4 linked regions of the Homo sapiens genome follow. The protein of the gene in region 2 purifies or fractionates together with the protein of the main gene of each other region. This does not show direct contact. Each region holds a gene or a part of one and is shown on either strand. Other genes may lie near its edges.

Region 1 (4,419 bases), on a different chromosome or scaffold from region 2:
TGTGTTTTGTTATTGCTGATTTCCACAAATCACAGTCTTTGAATTTTTCAGTGGTTCCTACTACTTTGTGATTAGTATTGGATTTGGAGTACTGCAGGATTTTTTCAGGGTTCTTGCTCCACTCTCAGCTTTTAGCAAGTTCTGCACATATCTCTTTGTGCTCTCACTGGTAGTTTGCTGTTCCTTATACTTTATTCAAGACTTGGTGGGGAGGGTGGGACTAGGTTCTCTTGTTGTATCCCTAGTCAGGCAAGCCTGTGCACCTCAGTGTCAGGGTGAGTATTAATGATCTTGCCGCTCTCCCTCTCTCCCAGCCTGTCCCCACTGTCCTCAGCCTGGTATCAAAAGGGTGGAGCAGGATACTCAACAAAAGCAGACCTTTGCTTTGTAAGATCCTGGGTGCAAGCAGGTATCAGCCTCGTCCCAGTAGTAGATGGCTTTTTTTTTCCTACCTCTCTTTCAGTGGCAGCTGACCTTTGCAAGTGACCAAGGAGTGGTCACATTCCTACCCCTCACCCAGCAGCAGATGGTTTTTGTTTCTACCTCTCTCGCAGCAGCTGGGCTTTTCCTTGTGCAGGAGGTACGAGGGTTTACTTTTTAGATATTTAAAACTTATCCTCAAAGCTATCTATATAGCATATTTAAATTGTTGTTTTAGATGGTTAATTCCTGATGAACAAAGGCTGAATCTTAGACTTTCAGAGAAAGATGCCTACTGTTTGGTTTTTATTATAATTTGTCAATGTGTTTGTTCTTTTCCAGCTTAGGCTTGATTTCCGACTCTTTTCACATGTTTTTCGATAGCACTGCCATTTTGGCTGGACTGGCAGCTTCTGTTATTTCAAAATGGAGAGATAATGATGCTTTCTCCTATGGGTAAGACTTTAAGAAAAAAAATCTTTTTATTGAAGTATAAGATATACACAAAAAAACACTAATCTTAAGCTCAGTGACTTGTTACCAATTGAACACAGGTGTAACTTTTGAATCTTTGAAGCCCCCACTCAGGCCTCTTCGAGTTCCTACCTCCCCAAGGGTAACCACTTTCATGACTTCATGGATGAGTTTTTGAATAGTATATAATTGGAATCTACAGTAATTTGTTGAGATTGTTACCATATAGAGGAATTTCTCAACTTTTTTTTGAAGAAGAAAGTTTTAGTATATGAAAATAGGATTTTTTTTTGCTTTTGCTTTTTTCTTTTTGAATGGATACTTTGCTGTTGATTTATTTAAAATCATTTTCTAATATGGTTTTATATTATGTTCTTTAGCTCTGCTTTTATGTAACAGTTCTTATATGCTTGCCGAGTTGGACAATTAATCAAATATTTGTAGAGCATCTGTATGCTGAAGGGACTACATTGGATCATCTTAGAGGCATAATTTGATTTCTGCCACCTCTGATTGGAGGAAGCAGTGGATTTTTCATTATTTGATTACACTGCCTGAGTGTTTCCTTTTTTGAGTTCATAGAATATTTTGCAGTATAGCTATATATATGTGTAAGCAGAGCTCAGGATGCATACTCTGTTTCTTTCTCTTCCCCACCCCTTTGTCTTTCCTATTCCCTCTCTCTTCTGCTTTCTTACTAATTCTTCCCCTCTGTCCTTTTCCTCCTCTTCTCTTCATTTCCCCTGTGAGTGCTCTTTTACATTCTCTTCCTTCTTCATCTGTCTCTCATATTTTCTGTCTCTCACTCTTGTTCCCTTCCTCAGCCTCTTACTCTCTCTTATCTTCTCCTGAACTCCCTTTTCCTTCTCTTGTCTTTGCTTCTTGTCGCTTGGGCTTGTGCTCATGCTCTTTTTTCCTCTCTCTTCCTTCTTCTGTCCCCCTATACCTTTCCTGTCTTATTCTTTGTTTTCTCCTGCTCTTTTCCTTTACCTTTTAACCCTTTATCTGTCAGGCTCAATCTCTCCTCCTCCTCTTCTCTTAACTTCTTTAGCTCTATTTCTTTTTTGTCTCCCTTTCCAAGTCTCTCTTTCCTTCCTTCACTGATTCTCCTTCCCTGAGCTCTCCCTTTCCGGTGCAGTTTCTCTCACTCTCTCCCTGTCCTTTTTACAGCCATCTTCTTTCATGTACTGTCTCTTAGGCCTCTTGTTATGTCTTTTACTCTCTGTCCTTAACTGCTCCCCCTTTCTCCCTGGCTTGGCTTCTTTCTTTAGCAGGCACACACTCTTTCTTTCACATGCTCTTGTTCTGTTTAGATATTTATTGAGGGTCCATATGAGTCAAATACTTTTCTAGTTCTAATGATGTAAAAATGATCTAATGATGTAAAAACATGCCTCCTGCCTTGCCGGAACTTGTCTCTTGGGCAAACAGTTCTGTAAAAATACAATAATAGCTATATATTGTGACAGTTGCCAAAAAGGAGATGTGGAGTTCTGTGGCAGAACTTGCTGATTTTAGTTATAAGCAAGGGATATGGTTATTTTTGAAATTATAAAAAGTGAGCCAAAAAATACTCATTGTACATTTTATAGTATAGAGCAGTAGATCCTATATATCTATAAATTCAAACAGCTTGACAGCTCAGATAAGAACGCTTTTTATGGCATGATATTGGTGATATGCAAATAATTTAAACAGTAGCTACTAAAAGATTCTTAAGTATATTTTAGATTATTAAAGAAAGATTATATCCAAAGTTATAATTTTTGTTGGAAAATTAGTAATTTATTTATATTATATATCAGAAATCTAATTAGAATAGCTTATTCTACAATCTTTCTGAATAAACAGTAGCTGACTATTGAAAATTCTCAGTTCTTTAACGCTTAGATTTTCTATTGTTTCCAATTTAGAATGTATTGTCTCCTGCTCTAAAATGGTTTTTAGAAATAGCTTTGAATACCTTCAGTACCATAGCAGATTTTAATGTTCAGCTTTAGCTAGTTGATGTAAGAGAATAATATTCTTTCCACCTTTAATTTAATCCTCTCCTCTCTTTATGTGTGTGTGTGTGTGTGTGTGTGTGTGTTTTCTTTTGGGAAAGATTAAAGAATAAAAGCTGGTACAATATTTAACACTATGAATAATTGGTATAGTAATAAGTAGCTTCATTTGTAAACTACTGGTGTCAGTGAATCAAAATGACACTGATTAATTCATGTTAAGCATAGGGTTGAATTCTCATAACCTCCCACCCCAATTCAGGATGACTGCTGTAGCTGACTGACTCTGCAATAGAAGAAAGAGTTGGGGAATATGAGAGCAAGCAAGGACTTTTAAGTATTTCTTTATATAAAAGTCATCTTTGTGTCTTGCCACACTCTTATTTTTTAAAGAGCAAAGACAGCTTAAAAGTAATATACATCCAGTAGGTAGATAGATACATACATACATGCGTATATACATATGTACCTATACTTAAATCTTTTCTATTTTTCTTCCTGGCTCAAGAATCTAAACACTAGCCATACTTAATTAGGCAACAGCACATTCATGAATTACATGTTCTAATTCTAAGACCTACTCAATCTGTTAAGTAAACACAGATATTTGTAAAGGCAAATGTGTTTAGTTTTCATGTGTTTTTGTTTTGAGCCCACAACCAAGTTTAACAAATATATCTTAAACTCAAGCTAATTAAATCACTCCAACATTTTATCTGAACTTAGATAGCACACCTACTAAGCTAGGAATTAGAAACAAAAAGATGCCTGAAAAACATTCTTGCCTTTGATCTTGAAATCTGGTAGAAGTCAAGCACAAAAGGTTTTCAGTCAAGCATTAGTTATGGGACTACAAGGGTAGATTAAAAGAAAATACTTTTTACTTTTGGATAGTAACCCTGCTGATTTATTAGATAAATTCCTAAGTGTAGGCTGTGGAATGCTGGTTGCAAATTATTTGAATTTAATGAACTTTTCTCCAGGAAAAAAAAATATGTTTTGACAAGTAATACGTTATTTGGATGTGTTAGAAGATAGAAATATGCATTATTTCTGGCATAGAAATACATACTATGTTGGAATGCACTTGACAGGACAAACTCCAACATAACTTGATAGAGTACATTTTCAAGAATTCTCTTTAAAAATATTTTTACAGTAAAAATCGTTATTACCTAGAAGTTAACATAGAAACCTAGGAAAAGCACGAGTTTTGATGCTCTCATTATATTGTTTAAGGACCAGAGTGGTTAATTGCTGTTAGCACCCTTTGAATGATGTTTGAACATGTAAAAATGCTAAGTTAAAGTTGTTTCTGATGACTTTAACTAAGCCAAATATACGATACAGAAAAATAAAATCTTTCCCCAATGCTTCACACAGGTAGGAAGCAGAAAGCTTCAGAACTCAATGGAACAAAAGACAGGTATTTTAAAAATAGTTTAATTAGAATTATGTGAAGCTAAAATTGATTCTAAAAATAGGTAATTGAAAGTTTATGCTAGATTTATTAATCTTAGAA
Region 2 (5,339 bases):
CATAAAAGTAAAAGGCAAGCTTAACTTTTGAAGGCTGACTCATGAAGAATTTTTTCATTAATCAAACACTGACTACATTTAAGCTATAAAATTTTCACATGGAATACTGAAACAATAATGTACCATGATTCTATCTCTAAATTTATTTTAAATTTAGAGCTTTCATATTTTATAGTTATTCTTTACCAGTTCAGATGTTTCTATATCTCTATATATTCATATAGAATTATAGATTTTATATTCATGTGTAATTAAGTCACAAAACTATGTAAAATAAAATTCTGTGTGAGTGATATGACTGATGACTTCTTAAAATAGTAATCTTCAATTACATATTTTACACCACAAAATGTACAGACACCCAGTTTTTTTCTAACAACAAATACAGGTGAATTTATCGATTCTTTATAAAAGCTTTAAGTGATTCTAAATTCAAAGTCATAGAAATAGAATCAGACTTATGCAGATTGTTAGATAGTTTGATAGTACATAGTCAGTGCTCTGTCTGATAACATCAATAGCTACATCTTTGGCATTGAAAATTCAATATGAGTTTTTGACAAAATTTTGTAGCTTAGAGCATCATTTTCTTTTAAACAAGGAAAAACACGGTTGAGTAAGATATGGAAATTGGGAGAAAACTATTAATGATTTTTTCTTAGTAAGTTTGTCTTTGGGACCCTGAATTACCTTTTATTTTATTGTATGATGTGGACTGTATGCATCCATTTAAAAACCAACTGAGTTGTACCACATTTTAGGAAAATTATATAATATAATATATATATTTTATATTTATTTAGAAGCTTTGAAATAGTACAGTAAACACTTTGCAACACGGTGTATAAACTACAGAATGTCTTTGATATTTTGTGGGTCTTCAGAATACAACATTTTTTATAACCCACAGGTGAAAAGAACATAATCACAATTTCTCTTGTAAAGTTGGAATAGCTTGCGGAACACTTGATCACACAAAAATAATATAAAACAGTCAAGTTTAAAACAGTGATATTGCATTTATAATGCACAAATTTCCTTTATCTTTATGACTGGCTTCTCGTGGTGAATATAAACATCTAAAGGGCTCAGTGACATTTGGAGAGAGAAAGATAGATAGTGCTGTAAACAGGCACACACTGATCGGGGAGGCAAAATCTGTTGCCTCTAAAGTTTCTACAGTTCTGCACATTTCAACTCATTTCTCAGGCCTGCTGAGAGCAATTAGGTCCTATAATTGGCCATGATGACTCCATCCGAAATCTAATACTCAGTTACACATGACTAACTGGATGGCCAAGATAATGAAGTTGAAAAGTTGATGCTTTTGTTGGTCGACTTTGTGCAAATCATGCTGCTTCAGGTAAGTCCTGTAGAATTGACTAGCATATCCTTTTCCGTGCTGTGAAAAAGAAAGAAAAATACTCTAAGAAAAAGAGGTTGACTTTTGGAGTTTAGAATTACACATTATTGTAAAAGAAAGAATACAGTTAGAAACTAGTTGTACCCTCATACCAAACACATGTAGTGTCAAACTTTTTCACTGCTAGTAGTCACAGCCATTCTGTTGTTTGGTTTTCTGAGAATGATAATTTTGATATTCTTATAAATTAGTTTTGCATGGGAAATGTACATTTTATATACCAAAGATGAAATTTGTGAAGATTAACTTTTTAAAGTTATCTACATAAAACAATCCCTACACTTCACTATTTATGCACAGAGTATAGAAAAAAATGTGTGGCCCTTACATTTCTAGAAAAAGTTTCTAGCAAAATCTATAAATAACTTGTTTTATATTTAATTTCATAAACTATAAATTATACATATTAAACCAATATTTATTATGGAAAACTGTACCAGAAAGTGTTTATGTAGTTAAATAATTTAAAGATGACTCACATTTTCTAGGTTTATTTAATCTCATTTATAAAATTTTAAAACCAAGTATTTTTATGGCCCATACATTTTTTTAAAGTATTCTTACTATGAGAATCCATTTTCTCATAAAGGAATTAATAAAGGCAAAGGGGAGAAAGATATTATCAAATTTGCTCTAGTTGTATAAAATATATTAAATTACAAAGCAGAATGCCCAGATTTGATTGCCCAGATTTCATAATTTTAAGTATTTTGTTTATTTGTAATGATAAATAATATTTCTTCCCTTATCCATAAACTTTGTAATATTTGACCATAAGCACAATGAGAGCAGAAGTTGCATCATATCTATCAGTATATGGCACATAACAGACATATAACAAAAATGTGTTGAAAATAAAGCTAGTTGAATTTAGATTAAATTTTCACATATCTCATTAAAAGTTACAAAGTACATTAAATAGCAAAACAATTATTTTAATCTCATAAATGGTTGCTTTTTTTAAACAAAGATAAGAACATGTTGATCTTCTCAACCTTATTCTCTGGTATTTCAACTCATTTCAAGACTATCTAATTATCTATTTATCCTAATTTATTTTTCCTCAAAAGCTCAGTTTCTGACCATGAAACAGTTCTTTACTAGTTCACCATTTAGCAGGCACATCAATCAAAACCATAGCAGTCGGCCGGATGTGGTGGCTCTCGTCTGTAATCCCAGCAATTTGGAAGTCCGAGTTGGGTGGGTCACCTGAGGTCAGGAGTTTGAAACCAGCCTGGCCAACATGGTGAATACCTGTCTCTACTAAAAGTACAAAATATTAGCCTGGCATGGTGGTGGGCGCCTATAATCCCAGCTACTTGGGAGGCTGAGGCAGAAGAATTGCTTGAACCCAGGAGGCAGAGGTTGCAGTGAGCTGAGATCATGCCATTGCACTCCAGCCTGTGAGACAAGAGCGAAACTCCATCTCAAAAAAAAAAAAAAAAAAAAAAAAACCCATAGCAGTCAGGCACCATCATCAACAGAAATGAAAGTGAAAATAAGTATCTACATGTATTGTGTAGTATAATAACTAGTATTGAAAGTAATCAGAACATATTTTGTAATGTATGATATCCAGAAGAATAAAATGAATTCGATACAATATATGGTAGTCATTATAACCAGGTCATAATATTCCAGAGAATATTCTACAAGTAAACGGAATTATTATTTTAATAGAATGAAATCCTATTTTTCTGTGTCCTTGAGTTCAAACTGTTTCATGAGAAACTTATATGTGAAATAATTCAAACAAATTTGTTTACACCAATCAGAATTGAAAATTATACAATAAATTAGAATAGTGAAACCTTAGAAGTCCAAGTTTATAAAACAAATCAGAGCAAATCATTACGGTCACCAAATAATTTGTTGTCTAAACTGGACCCACTGGTGAGTGAAAAGAAACACTATTATTAATTACAAAAGATTTTGTGCTTTCTGGACAACCCAGGAAAATATTGTCACCGACAAATAATATTACTCCTTTCAAAATAAGCTGGGTTGGGGCCTTTCCTGTTAATAGTAAAAATCAGAAAATGCTGATTTAGAGGAAACATTCTTTTCTTAGTTCAAGAACAAAAGAAACTCAGGAGTGACCTATAGTCAACCTATAACTAATTCATTATGTCAAAAAACTAATATACTGAAAAACTATGTTTTAGTATAAATTCAGAAAGTAGTCAACATAGCATATGTTTAGAGTAATAAAAATATCATTTCTAGTTCTTATGGCTTAAAGGCCATTAACATAAATATTATGTGTTCACTTGATTTAGTTAGGATACAAACAGAAATTGTTTCTTTTTAATAAAAGAAATTATTAAAATGGTTCACAGTTTTAAGAACACAGAAGCTTAGCACACATTATACTCAATATCTTAAATATAAACATAAACTTAAAAGACATCTTTTAATTGCTGCTTAGAGTTACGTGTTTTCTTTTTTAAAGTTCACCTATTGTACTTGTTGTCTGAATAATATAATCACCTATTATTAAATTTACTTCCTCCCACCTATGTGTTAATTCAGTAATGCAGATTTGGATAGGACAAATATAAGATCTGAACTTAGATCTGATCTAAGTTCCGAAGGTCAGAATTAATTAGATTGAGGAAGGAAGATTTCCTCCATGTTAGAAGAAGCTAATCTTACATTTATGAAGAGTTATCCCTCAGTGTCTGTGAGGGCCTGTTTCCAGGTTGCCCCCAAAATCGAAGGATGCTCAAGTCCCTTATGGCCTGTAGTGTATGCATATATCCTATGCATGTCCTCCTAAATATGTTAAATTATCTTCAGGTTACTTACAACATCTAATATAATGCCTAACACCAGGCACATCACTTCATTCACATAAATTCAAGGCAGTACTCTGTGCATGGCAAATTCAAGTTTTGCTTTTTGAAACTTTGTGGGACTTTTTTCCAAATATTTTTAATCCACAGTTGATTGAATCCACAGACAAGGAGCCCAAGGATACAGAGGAGCCAAAAATCCTGCCAACCTAGAAATAGTTTATACTATTACTAAAGTTTTAGTCACATCCGCTTTATTTCAAACCTTCTACGGGTTGAGTTTAAACACTGAATAACTATTATTCTTGGCTGGGCACGGTGGCTCAGGCCTGTAGTTCCAACAATTTGGGAGGTTGAGGCGAGCGGATCACTTGAGCCCAGGAGTTTGAGACCAGCCTGACAAACATGTCAAAAGACCATCTCTACTAGAAATACAAAAGTTAGCAGGGTTTAGTGGCACAGGCCTGTAATCCCAGCTACCTCGGAGGCTGAGGAACAAGAATTGCTTGAATCTATGAAGTGGAGGTTGCAATGAACTGAGATCTTGCCACTGCACTCCAGCCTAGGAGACAGAGCAAGGCTCTGCCTCAAAAAACAAACAAAACCTATTATTCTTTTAGGGTTGTATGGCCTAATGTTGGACAAGTAGCAAGCAAATATTATCTGACCCTCCCCACAAAAAAAATATTAATTGATGACATTTTAGAGCCAGTACCAGGACAATTATTCCAGTGTTAAGTAACATGGCTATATATTTGCTGATGCATTTTAGGTTTGACAGAATGAGTCAAATACACAGAGAATCTCTATGCTTTCTAATATATTCTATGTATGTTTTGGAATTATCAAAGCATGCTTGGAGGATTTCTTTTTCTTTTCATTTCACAAAAGCATTTTTTTCTTGTGATGCATCAGCATGTAGGGAATTGGTCACTTGATAGATAGGGAGGTTTTATTTTCAATCAAATGAAATCAGAAGTAATAGGAAAAGGACTGTGTTCCTTCTTAATTTTATTCATTCAGTGCATTTATTCTTCATAGTGAGTCATAAATGCTAGATTAAGATACTTATCTTAATATCTAAACCACAGGTGAAAATGTATCCTTAATGGAAAAGAGAT
Region 3 (5,148 bases), on a different chromosome or scaffold from region 2:
TTTCTTTTTTTTTGAGACAGGGTCTTGCTTTATCGTCTAGGCTGGAGTGCAGTGGCACGATGTTGGCTCACTGCAACCTCTGCCTCTCAGGTTCAGGCAATTCTCCTGTCTCAGCCTCCCAAGTAGCTGGGATTACAGGCGTGTGCCACCACGCCCGGCTAATTTTATATTTTTAGTAGAGATGGGGTTTCTCCATGTTGGTCAGGCTGGTCTCGAACTCCCAACCTCAGGTGATCTGCTCGCCTCGGCCTCCCAGTGTGCTGGAATTACAGGTGTGAGCCACCACGTCTGGCCAGGGATAATAGTTTGTAATTCACTGGGCGTTACGGTCCTGCAGGTAACATTGTTTTTCTTATTTATTTATTTATTTATTTAGTCAATTCTAGCAGTATCTTCTAACTTTTTTTGTTCGTGTTTTTTGAGACAGGGTCTCGCTTTGTCACCCAGGCTGGAGTGCAGTGGCGTGATCACGGCTCTCTGCAGCCTCTACCTCCTGGGCTCAAGTGATCCTCCTGCCTCAGCCTCCCGAGTAGCTGGGACTACAGCCGCTACCATGCCCGGCTAATTTTAAATTTGTTTTTTTTTGCAGAGATGGGGTTTTGCCATGTTGCTCAGGCTGGTCTCGAACTCCTAGCTCAAAGCCTTGGCCTTCCAGGCGTGAGCTACCGCGCCGGGCCTGCTGAAGTTCTTGATATAGTTTCTGGCACATAGTATATGTTTAATAGATGTTTGTTGTTCTGATGATTTCAGTTATGTACCATTTACAGGCGTTTGTAACCTTTTTAGCTAACAAGTTGGGCATTTAGGGAACTGACTATAGAAAGCATTTCTCGGAAACGAGGACTGGTTCTGCGACGTCTTAACGAGGTGCGGGTGGCCAGTATTTTCCCCAACTTGAAAATCTGTGTAGAGGTGGGAGGGCAGTCTAGCCTCAGGCGGAATAGGAAAACTTCCTTATGCCTAATTTCAGTGTCAGTGTGTGGTATTTCCTACGCGGAACACCGCCCCAAACTAATGTCTACGTTTAACTCAACCGCGGTAAATTTCCTTCCATGGCACTATTAACTTGGCCCGGCCCACATGTCCCCTCCCGGTTGGTGTGAACGCTCCGAGGTTAGCTCAAACCTCGGCGATTTTCCCAGCTGATTGGCCGTGCAAATAGACAATCCTTTTGCTTTTCTGATTGGTCGCACATGGCATCGGGGGTGGGGGACGTGGGCGTGTCTCGCCAGAATTCGTTTAACTGTGATTTGAAGATGAACATGGTATTGCCAGAGCTTCATGGCGTCGCCTACGGCGCTCCCTCCCTCCCAGGCCCTTACTCTTCTTTGCGTTGGCCAGATATGTCGTCACTCACAAAACTTCGAGCTCATTGGTGCAAAAGCTCCAGGAGGCGGTGGGTGATTGGTTGGTTGCTGTTCCTGCCCCCACGCCTGTCGTGGTTTAGCTGAACTGAGCTGAAATCCTAAAGGCCGCGGAGTCGGCGGTGTTGTAGGTAGCGGTACCTTGAGTGGCAACAGGTGAGTCTCCGGCTGCAGGGATGGGGCGGCAGCACTCAAGACCTGGCTGGATCTCCACTTCGTCTGCGGGCCAGAAACTGGAGGGCGGCGGTGGCTTTCGGAAAGGGATTGGGCTCCGCTGTTCCTTCTTCGCCCTCTCTAGGGCCGGAGCAGCGAGGAACCGAAGGAGGCTTCATAGGTTCCACGCAGGGCCCTCTCTTTGCTCTTCCAGGGGCGCACAAGTTGAGAAGGAGCGGCCTGGCAGCCGGGGCAAAAAAGGGGCGTCTTTCCCCGGGAGCCGGGCGTGCCTGGCTGCCGCGCACGCTCACCTGGGCCACCACGCTTGTTCGCGCCCTTGACGTCGTGCCGACGTTTCTCCCTAATGCACTTTTGGCGCTTGGGGCTGGGAGACTGAGCGTGCCAAAAAGGCCCTGTAGTCGGAGCCATCTTACCTTAGAGGGGTCTCCAGCGGCGCAGGGGTGTCAGGACCACGGGCGCCTGGGGCACATGAGTAGCAATAAGAGGAAAGAGAAGGGAGAGGGAGGTCAAGGTGGTGTGTCTGTGCGGTTGGCAGGGGGAATTGGGACTAGCTGCCTCAAGGGGCATCTGAGCGGGAAGTACCTTCCCTCCCCCAGCATGTTCCTGAAAAGTCTCCTCATCTGTGAGATTTGTTTTTCGAAACAAAGAAAAGGAATCTCTAGTTTTGTCGCCCGGCAAGATTTTGAGTGCTGCAATGCACTGGACTTTTATAGACCTATAATGGACTTTCTTTGAATGATTAAAACATTTATCATTCTTTGGTCACTTACGCCACATTTGTGAACAGGATAAATTCTGTGCTCGCTTTCTCTCATCCTAGAAAGGAATGTTGTGTACTTGGGCGTAATCCATGATATTAAGCTACTGCTGGCCACTGTTGAATTTCAGCGGTGAGGCCTGTGGAATTTGGTTACCTCCGCTCTGTGGTTACCAGAGTCCGAATGAATGGGAGATTGGCTATCCTCCTTGTGTCTTCCTCCTCCCCTGCCCAGGAGTAAAGCTTTCTTTGGTTAGCAATTTAAAAAGAAAATAAATCACAGTCTCTGGAACAAGGATGTATGTCTTTTTCTTTTTGAATTTTTTTTTGTTTTATTATTTTTAAAAATAGAGGCAGGGTCTCGCTATGTTGCCCAGGCTGGTCTTGTACTCCTGGCCTAAAGCAATCCTCCCTTGTCTTCTGTTATCTCAGTAAGCAAAAACTAAAGTGACCCTCTTGCCTCAGCCTCCCAAAGTGCTGGAATTACAGGGGTAAGCCACCCTGCCTGGTCTGAAGATCTTTACAGACTTCCAAGAGCTTAGTTAGAGGTGTAGACCCAGCACTGCTTGTAAGTCTTTACTTAGAATGTCAAGCTCACATTTCAAGTAGGCTGATCTCAAAGAGACTGTAAATTTCTGTAAGTTAGTCTGACTTTACTATTGACTTACTTTATATAACCTACCATGATTTCTACTGAAAAATAAAATATTGAACATTTATGCTGTTAGAAGTCAATATAGTGATTACCTTTTATGGAGTAATGACTGGGAGGAGGCACAAGGAGAATTGGTCTGATAATCATTTTTTTTTTTTTTTTTTTTTGAGATGGAGTCTCACTCTGTTGCCCTGGGCTGGAGTTCAGTGGCCCAATCTTGGCTCACTTCAACCTCCACCTCCCAGGTTCAAGTGATTCTTGTGCCTTAGCCTTCTGAGTAGCTGGGACTGCATGTGTGTGCCACTACACCTAGCTAATTTTTGTATTTTTAGTAGAGACGGGGTTTCACCATTTTGGCCAGGCTGGTCTCGAACTCTTGACCTCAGGTGATCCACCCACCTTGGTCTCCCAAAGTGTTGGGATTACAGGCATGAGCCACTGTGCCCAGCCTGATAAATCATCTTTTCTTGATTTGGTTACATAGGTGTGTTTGGTTCATGAAAATGTATTGAACTTTACAGTTATCATGTATGTTTATATCTGTATGTAAATTATACTTAAATAAAAAGTTCTAAGAACTGGTTGAGAGTAAGGTGATAGTTACAGCAATAGAACACTGGATACTGGCTGGGCCTGGTAGCTCACGCCTGTAATCCCAGCACTTTGGGAGGCTGAGGTGGGAAGATCACTTGAGCCCAGGGGTTCGAGATTAGCCTGGGAAATATAGTGAGACCTCATTTCCACAAAAAATACAAAAATTAGCTGAGCGAGGTGGCGTATGCCTGTGGTCGCAGCTGCTCCAGAGGCTGAGGTGGGAGGATTGTTTGAGATGGGGAGGTTGAGGTTGCAGTGAGCCGTGATTGTGCCACTGCACTCCAGCCTGGGTGACAGAGCGAGACCCTGTCTCAAAACAAAACAAAAAACTCAAACGAAAACTGGATGCTGTGGTGCCTCCTCAACTCTGCCAAGTTATCTCTCTTGGCAGTGAAGCTTCCCAACGCTGAATTTCTTTGCCTCTGAAATTTCTTAGGTTATTTCCAAGGTGTCTGCTAGCCATAAGGAACTACTACGTTTCCAAGGGATATTGTTGTTTAACCTGTCTTAAAGACTTTGTTTTATATTGCATAAAATAAAAAGCTTCTCTGTTTCATAAATTCTCATTTCAGTAGAATTTAGAATGAGGTATAGTTGTATTTGTTGTATCATTGCTTCTGTACTTGTTTTTTAAAAAAAATTAATTAATTAATTAATTTTTTGAGACAGTCTTGCTCTGTTGCCCAGACTAGAGTGCAGTGGCGTGGTCCTGGCTTACTGCAACCTCTGCCTCCCCAGGTTCAAGTGATTCCTATGCCTTAGCATCCTGAGTAGCTGGTACTACAGGCGTGCACCACCGTGCCCAGCTAATTTTTGTGTTTTTAGTAGAGACGGGGTTTCACCATGTTGGCCAGGCTGGTCTTGAACCCATGACCTCAGGTGATCCACCCACCTTGGCCTCCCAAAGTGCTGGGATTACAGGCGTGAGCTACCGCACCTGGCCTTGTACTTCTGTACTAAATGACTAAAGGCTGCCACTGTCATAGCAGTGCTGAGGCTATGTTGCATATCCCTCTTGGATGCTGCAGTGGAAAATAGAATTTTCTGGTAAGGCATGGAAAGGTTTAGTTGAGTTTCCCTTTGAAGACAAGACTCACTACTCATTGGCCAAAGTGTACCTAAAATTGTTGAATTTTTCCTGGGAGCCATTTCTAATTGACACTTGTATTTTCTGCGTGTTGCTTCTATATCTCTGCAGAGAACAATTATTTGGCTTGCTTTTCTTGTCATGTTACAGAATTCGATTAAATTACAATGGGAAACATTTTTGAAAAGCTCTTTAAAAGTCTACTTGGGAAAAAAAAGATGCGGATTCTTATATTGAGTTTGGATACAGCTGGAAAAACCACCATCTTGTATAAATTGAAGCTGGGGGAGACTGTGCCTGCCGTCCCTACAGTAGGTAAGTTAATGAAAGACCTGTGGCAATTCCAGTTTACAATTTAGTATGTTATATATATTTTTTAGGTTCTGTTTCACCAGAGAAATATGTTTTATTTTTACATGCTTCTTATGTTATTGAATAATTCTTTTTAAAAATCTTGTCTACTCCATGAGCATACATTTTTAGAGGCCAAAAACCAGGTTATATATATCCTTTTCTT
Region 4 (4,419 bases), on a different chromosome or scaffold from region 2:
AGCTTAGGCTGGGCATGGTGGCTCACGCCTGTAATCCCAGCACTTTGGGAGGCCGAGGTGGGCAGATCACCTGAGGTCAGGAGTTCCAGACCAGCCTGGCCAATATGGTGAAACCCCGTCTCTACTAAAAATACAAAAATTAGCCGGGAGTGGTGGCGGGTGACTGTAATCCCAGCTGCTCGGGAGGCTGAGGCAGGAGAATCTCTTGAACCCAGGAGGTGGAGGTTGCAGTGAGCCGAGATCGCCCCACTGCACTCCAGCCTGGGCATCCCAGCAAGACTCAGTCTCAAAAAAAAATTTAAAGTAACTACATGCAGTGGCTCATGTCTGTAATCTCAGAGATTTGGAAGGCTGAGGTGGGAGAACTGCTTGAGGCCAGGAGTTCAAGACCAGCTAGGCAACATAGTGAGATCTCAGCTCTACAAAAAATTTTACAAATGAGCTAAGTATAGTGGCTTGCACCTATAGTCCTAGTTACTTGGAAGGCTGAGGTGGGAGGATCACTTGAACCCAGGAGTTGGAGATTGCAGTGAGCTTTGATTGTACCACTGCACTACAGCTGGAGCAACACAGTGAGACCCTAACTCTAAAAAAAATAAATAGGCCGGGCCCGGCGTAGTGGCTCACATTTGTAATCTCAGCACTTTGGGAGGCCGAAGTGGGCGGATCACCTGACGTCAGGAGTTCGAGACCAGCCTGACCAACATGGAGAAACCCCATCTCTCCTAAAAATACAAAATTAGCCAGGCGTGGTGGTGCACGCCTGTATTCCCAGCTATTGAGGAGGCTGAGGTAGGAGAATTGCTTGAACCTGGGAGGCGGAGGTTGCGGTGAGCCGAGATTGTACCATTGCACTCCACCCTGGGCAACAAGAGCAAAACTCTGTCTCAAAAAAATAAAAATAGATAAAAAATAGGCCGGGCACGGTGGCTCACGCCTGTAATCCCAGCACTTTCGGAGGCCGAGGCGGGCGGATCACGAGGTCAGGAGATGGAGACCATCCTGGCTAACATGGTGAAACCCCGTCTCTACTAAAAAATATATAAAAAATTAGCCGGGTGTGGTGGCGGGCGCCTGTAGTCCCAGCTACTCGGGAGGCTGAGGCAGGAGAATGGCGTGAACCCGGGAGGTGGAGCTTGTAGTGAGCCGAGATCGTGCCACTGCGCTCCAGCCTGGGCGACAGAGTGAGACTCCGTCTCAAAATAAATAAATAAATAAATAAAAAATAAATAGGCCAGATGTGGTTGTTCACACCTGTAATCCTAGTAATATGGAAGGCTCAGGTGGGAAGACTGCTTGAGGCCAGGAGTTTGAAACCAGCCTGGGCAACACAGCAAGACCTCATGTCTATTAAAAATTAGCCTGGTGTGGTGGCACGCACCTGTGGTCCTAGCTACAGAGAGGCTGAGGCAGGAGGATTGCTTGAGCCCAAGAGTTTGAGGCTGCAATGAGACGAGATTGCACCACTGCACTCCAGCCTGGGCAAGACAACGAGACCTTGTCATTCATTTATTCACACATACATAACATTTTGTTTTAAACCCAGAACTTTGTTTTTAGGTTTGTATCAAGCAAAGTCATTAACGTTAGGTCAACACTGTTTTCTTTTTTTTTTTTCTGAGATGGAGTCTTGCTCTGTCTCCCAGGCTGGAGTGCAGTGGTGCGATCTCGGCTCACTGCAACCTCCGCCTCCCAAGTTCAAGCGATTCTCCTACCTCAGCCTCCAGAGTAGCTGGGATTACAGGCACGCACCTCCACACCCAGCTAATTTTTGTATTTTTAGTAGAGACAGGGTTTCGACATGTTGGCCAGGCTGGTCTCAAACTCCTGACCTCAGGTGATCCACCTGCCTCAGCCTCCCGAAGTGCTGGGATTACAGGTGTGAACCACCACGCCTTGCCTATTGTTTTCAAATATTGCCTTTGATTTTAAATAATGTTCCAAAGGTAGATTAATATTAAATTATATTAACAAAATATAATGAAAACATGTAATAATTACCTTTTATTTTTATTTTTATTATTTTTTTGAGACGGAATCTCACTGTCACCCAGGCTGGAGTGCAGTGGCGCGATCTCGGCTCACTGCAAACTCCACCTCCCAGGTTCACACCATTCTCCTGCCTTAGCCTCCCGAGTAGCTGGGACTACAGGCGCCAGCCACCACACCTGGCTAATTTTTTTGTATTTTTTTTTAGTAGAGATGGGGTTTACACCGTATTAGCCAGGATGGTCTCGATCTCCTGACCTCATGATCCACCCAGCTCGGCCTCCTAAAGTGCTGGAATTACAGGCATGAGCCACCACGCCCAGCCAATAATTACCTTTTAAAAGAGCCCTTTAATTGGCTGGGCACAGTGGCTCACGCCTGTAATCCCAACACTTTGGGAGACAGAGGCAGGCGGATCATGAGGTCAGGAGATCGAGACCAGCCTGGCTAACACGGTGAAACCCCGTCTCTACTAAAAATACAAAAAATAAATAAATAAATAAGTTAGTCGGGTGTGGTGGCACGTGCCTATAGTCCCAGCTACTTGGGAGGCTGAGGCAAGAGAATCGCTTGAACCTGGGAGGTGGAGGCTGCAGTGAGCCGAGATTGTGCCACTGCACTCCAGCCTCGTGACAGAGCGATACTCCGTGTAAAAAAAAAACAACAAGCCCTTTAACATGAATAAACGATGTAATTACACTTCTATTTAAGTTGTGGTTTTTCGGGGTTTTTTTTAAATTTAGAAACAGGGTCTCATTCTGTCACCCCAGCTGGAGTGCATTGGCAAAATCATAGCTCACTGCAGCCTTTGATCTCCTGGGCTCAAGCGATACTCCACCTCAGTTTCTTGAGTAGCTGAGACTACAGGCGCATGCCACCATGTCCGGCTAATTTTTAAATTTTGTTTTGGAGACAGCGTCTCACTATATTGCCCAGGCTGGTCTCAAATTCCTAGCCTCAAATGATCCTCTGCCCTGGCCTCTTAAAGCACTGGGATTACAGGGGTGAGCCACTACACTCAGTCCCCTTCTTTTTTTTTTTTTTTGAGACGGAGGCTCGCTATCGCCCAGGCTAGAGTGCAGTGGCGCGATCTCGGCTCACTGCAAGCTCTGCCCCCTGGGGTTCACGCCATTCTCCTGCATCAGCCTCCCACGTAGCTGGGACTACAGGCGCCCGCCACCTTGCCAGGCTAATTTTTTGTATTTTTAGTAGAGACGGGGTTTCACCGTGTTAGCCAGGATGGTCTCGATCTCCTGACCTCGTGATCCGCCCGCCTGGGCCTCCCAAAGTGCTGGGATTACAGGCGTGAGCCACCGCGCCCGGTCCCCCTTCTTAAAAATGTAGAAAACATCACCCCTTGCTCGATACATTGCTGTGAGAATCGAATGAAATATTAGTTTTGAAAACACCTGGTGTGGACCGGGTGCAGTGGCTCACAGCTCTAATCCTAAGCACTCTGGGAGGCCAAGGCAGGTGGATTGCTTGAGCTCAGGAGATGGAGATCAGCCTGGGCAACAACAGCCTGGGTGAAACTCTGTCTCTACAAAAAATTAGCTGGGTGTGGTGGTGTGTGCCTGTAGTCCCAGCGACTCAGTAGGCTGAGGTGGGAGGATGGCTTGGGTCCAGGAGACCAAGGCTGCAGTGAACCTTGATCACACCACTGCACTTCAGCCTGGGTGAGAGAAAGACCATGTCTCAAAAAAGAAGAAAAAAAAAAAGAAAACACCTGGTGTTAACAAAATACCTTAGCCTGAAAGAAGAAAGAAAGGAAGGAAAAAGAAAAAGAAAGGAGAGAGAGAAATAAAGAAAACACCTGGTGAATTCTTTAAGGCACAATGCAAAAGTTAGTTATTCACAATAGGAGAAAGACAATGCCTTCAACTTGATTCTCAGTCTTCTACATAGAGCTTCAGGGGCATCTCAGGACAGAATGGCAATTCCTTCTCCAAGGGTGACCTTTCTGTTTCCTTTGGGACAAAAATGCACACATTTGCAAAAGCCATGTCTAATTCTGTAATTTATTTTCTTTGCCTGATGATGACTGTAAAAAACAAAAACGAATATAACACTGTAATTCTGAGGGTGAAAGAGTCAACTGAAAGCCACTGCATGTGTAAATCCAACATTTATAATGCAGAAACGGTTTTCAGTAATCCAGATTCAGCCTCCACTTCCACACCATTCCCAATACAGACTCGATGACTCACATGGCAACGGCCACCTTCTGCAGCATCCCTCAGATGACACTGACCTTTTCTAGACAGAGGCCACACACCAGTCCAGTGGCTCAATACTCCTTACAAACTGGCCTGTTTTTCTAGAAAGCCCCCAAAGAACTGTGAAATGTGCCCCTGAGTACACCTGCGCTGAGCTCTTCAGTGTTATCACATGCTGGGAATAAAAGAGTTCTGTCAGAGAGCAGGCGTGGAA

The links. Proteins that work in one complex are often made in the same cells at the same time.
Region 1: the proteins of PCDH10 (region 2) and SLC30A7 purify together in Homo sapiens (affinity purification with mass spectrometry; one large-scale study listed by BioGRID and IntAct). This does not show direct contact.
Region 3: the proteins of PCDH10 (region 2) and ARL17A purify together in Homo sapiens (affinity purification with mass spectrometry, with the first as the bait; one large-scale study listed by BioGRID). This does not show direct contact.
Region 4: the proteins of PCDH10 (region 2) and SHMT1 purify together in Homo sapiens (co-immunoprecipitation; one large-scale study listed by IntAct). This does not show direct contact.

The regions. Positions count from the first base shown.
Region 1 is NC_000001.11:100,906,090-100,910,508, forward strand, and holds part of SLC30A7 (zinc transporter 7), read left to right. Parts: intron 1-762; coding exon 763-876; intron 877-4,419. UniProt on the Homo sapiens protein: Zinc ion transporter mediating zinc entry from the cytosol into the lumen of organelles along the secretory pathway.
Region 2 is NC_000004.12:133,186,204-133,191,542, reverse strand, and holds part of PCDH10 (protocadherin-10 isoform 1 precursor), read right to left. Parts: intron 1,403-5,339; coding exon 1,383-1,402; 3' UTR 1-1,382.
Region 3 is NC_000017.11:46,575,973-46,581,120, reverse strand, and holds the start of ARL17A (ADP-ribosylation factor-like 17-like), read left to right. Parts: upstream 1-1,429; 5' UTR 1,430-1,520; intron 1,521-4,781; 5' UTR 4,782-4,798; coding exon 4,799-4,946; intron 4,947-5,148.
Region 4 is NC_000017.11:18,349,132-18,353,550, forward strand, and holds part of SHMT1 (serine hydroxymethyltransferase, cytosolic), read right to left. Parts: intron 1-4,419. UniProt on the Homo sapiens protein: Interconversion of serine and glycine.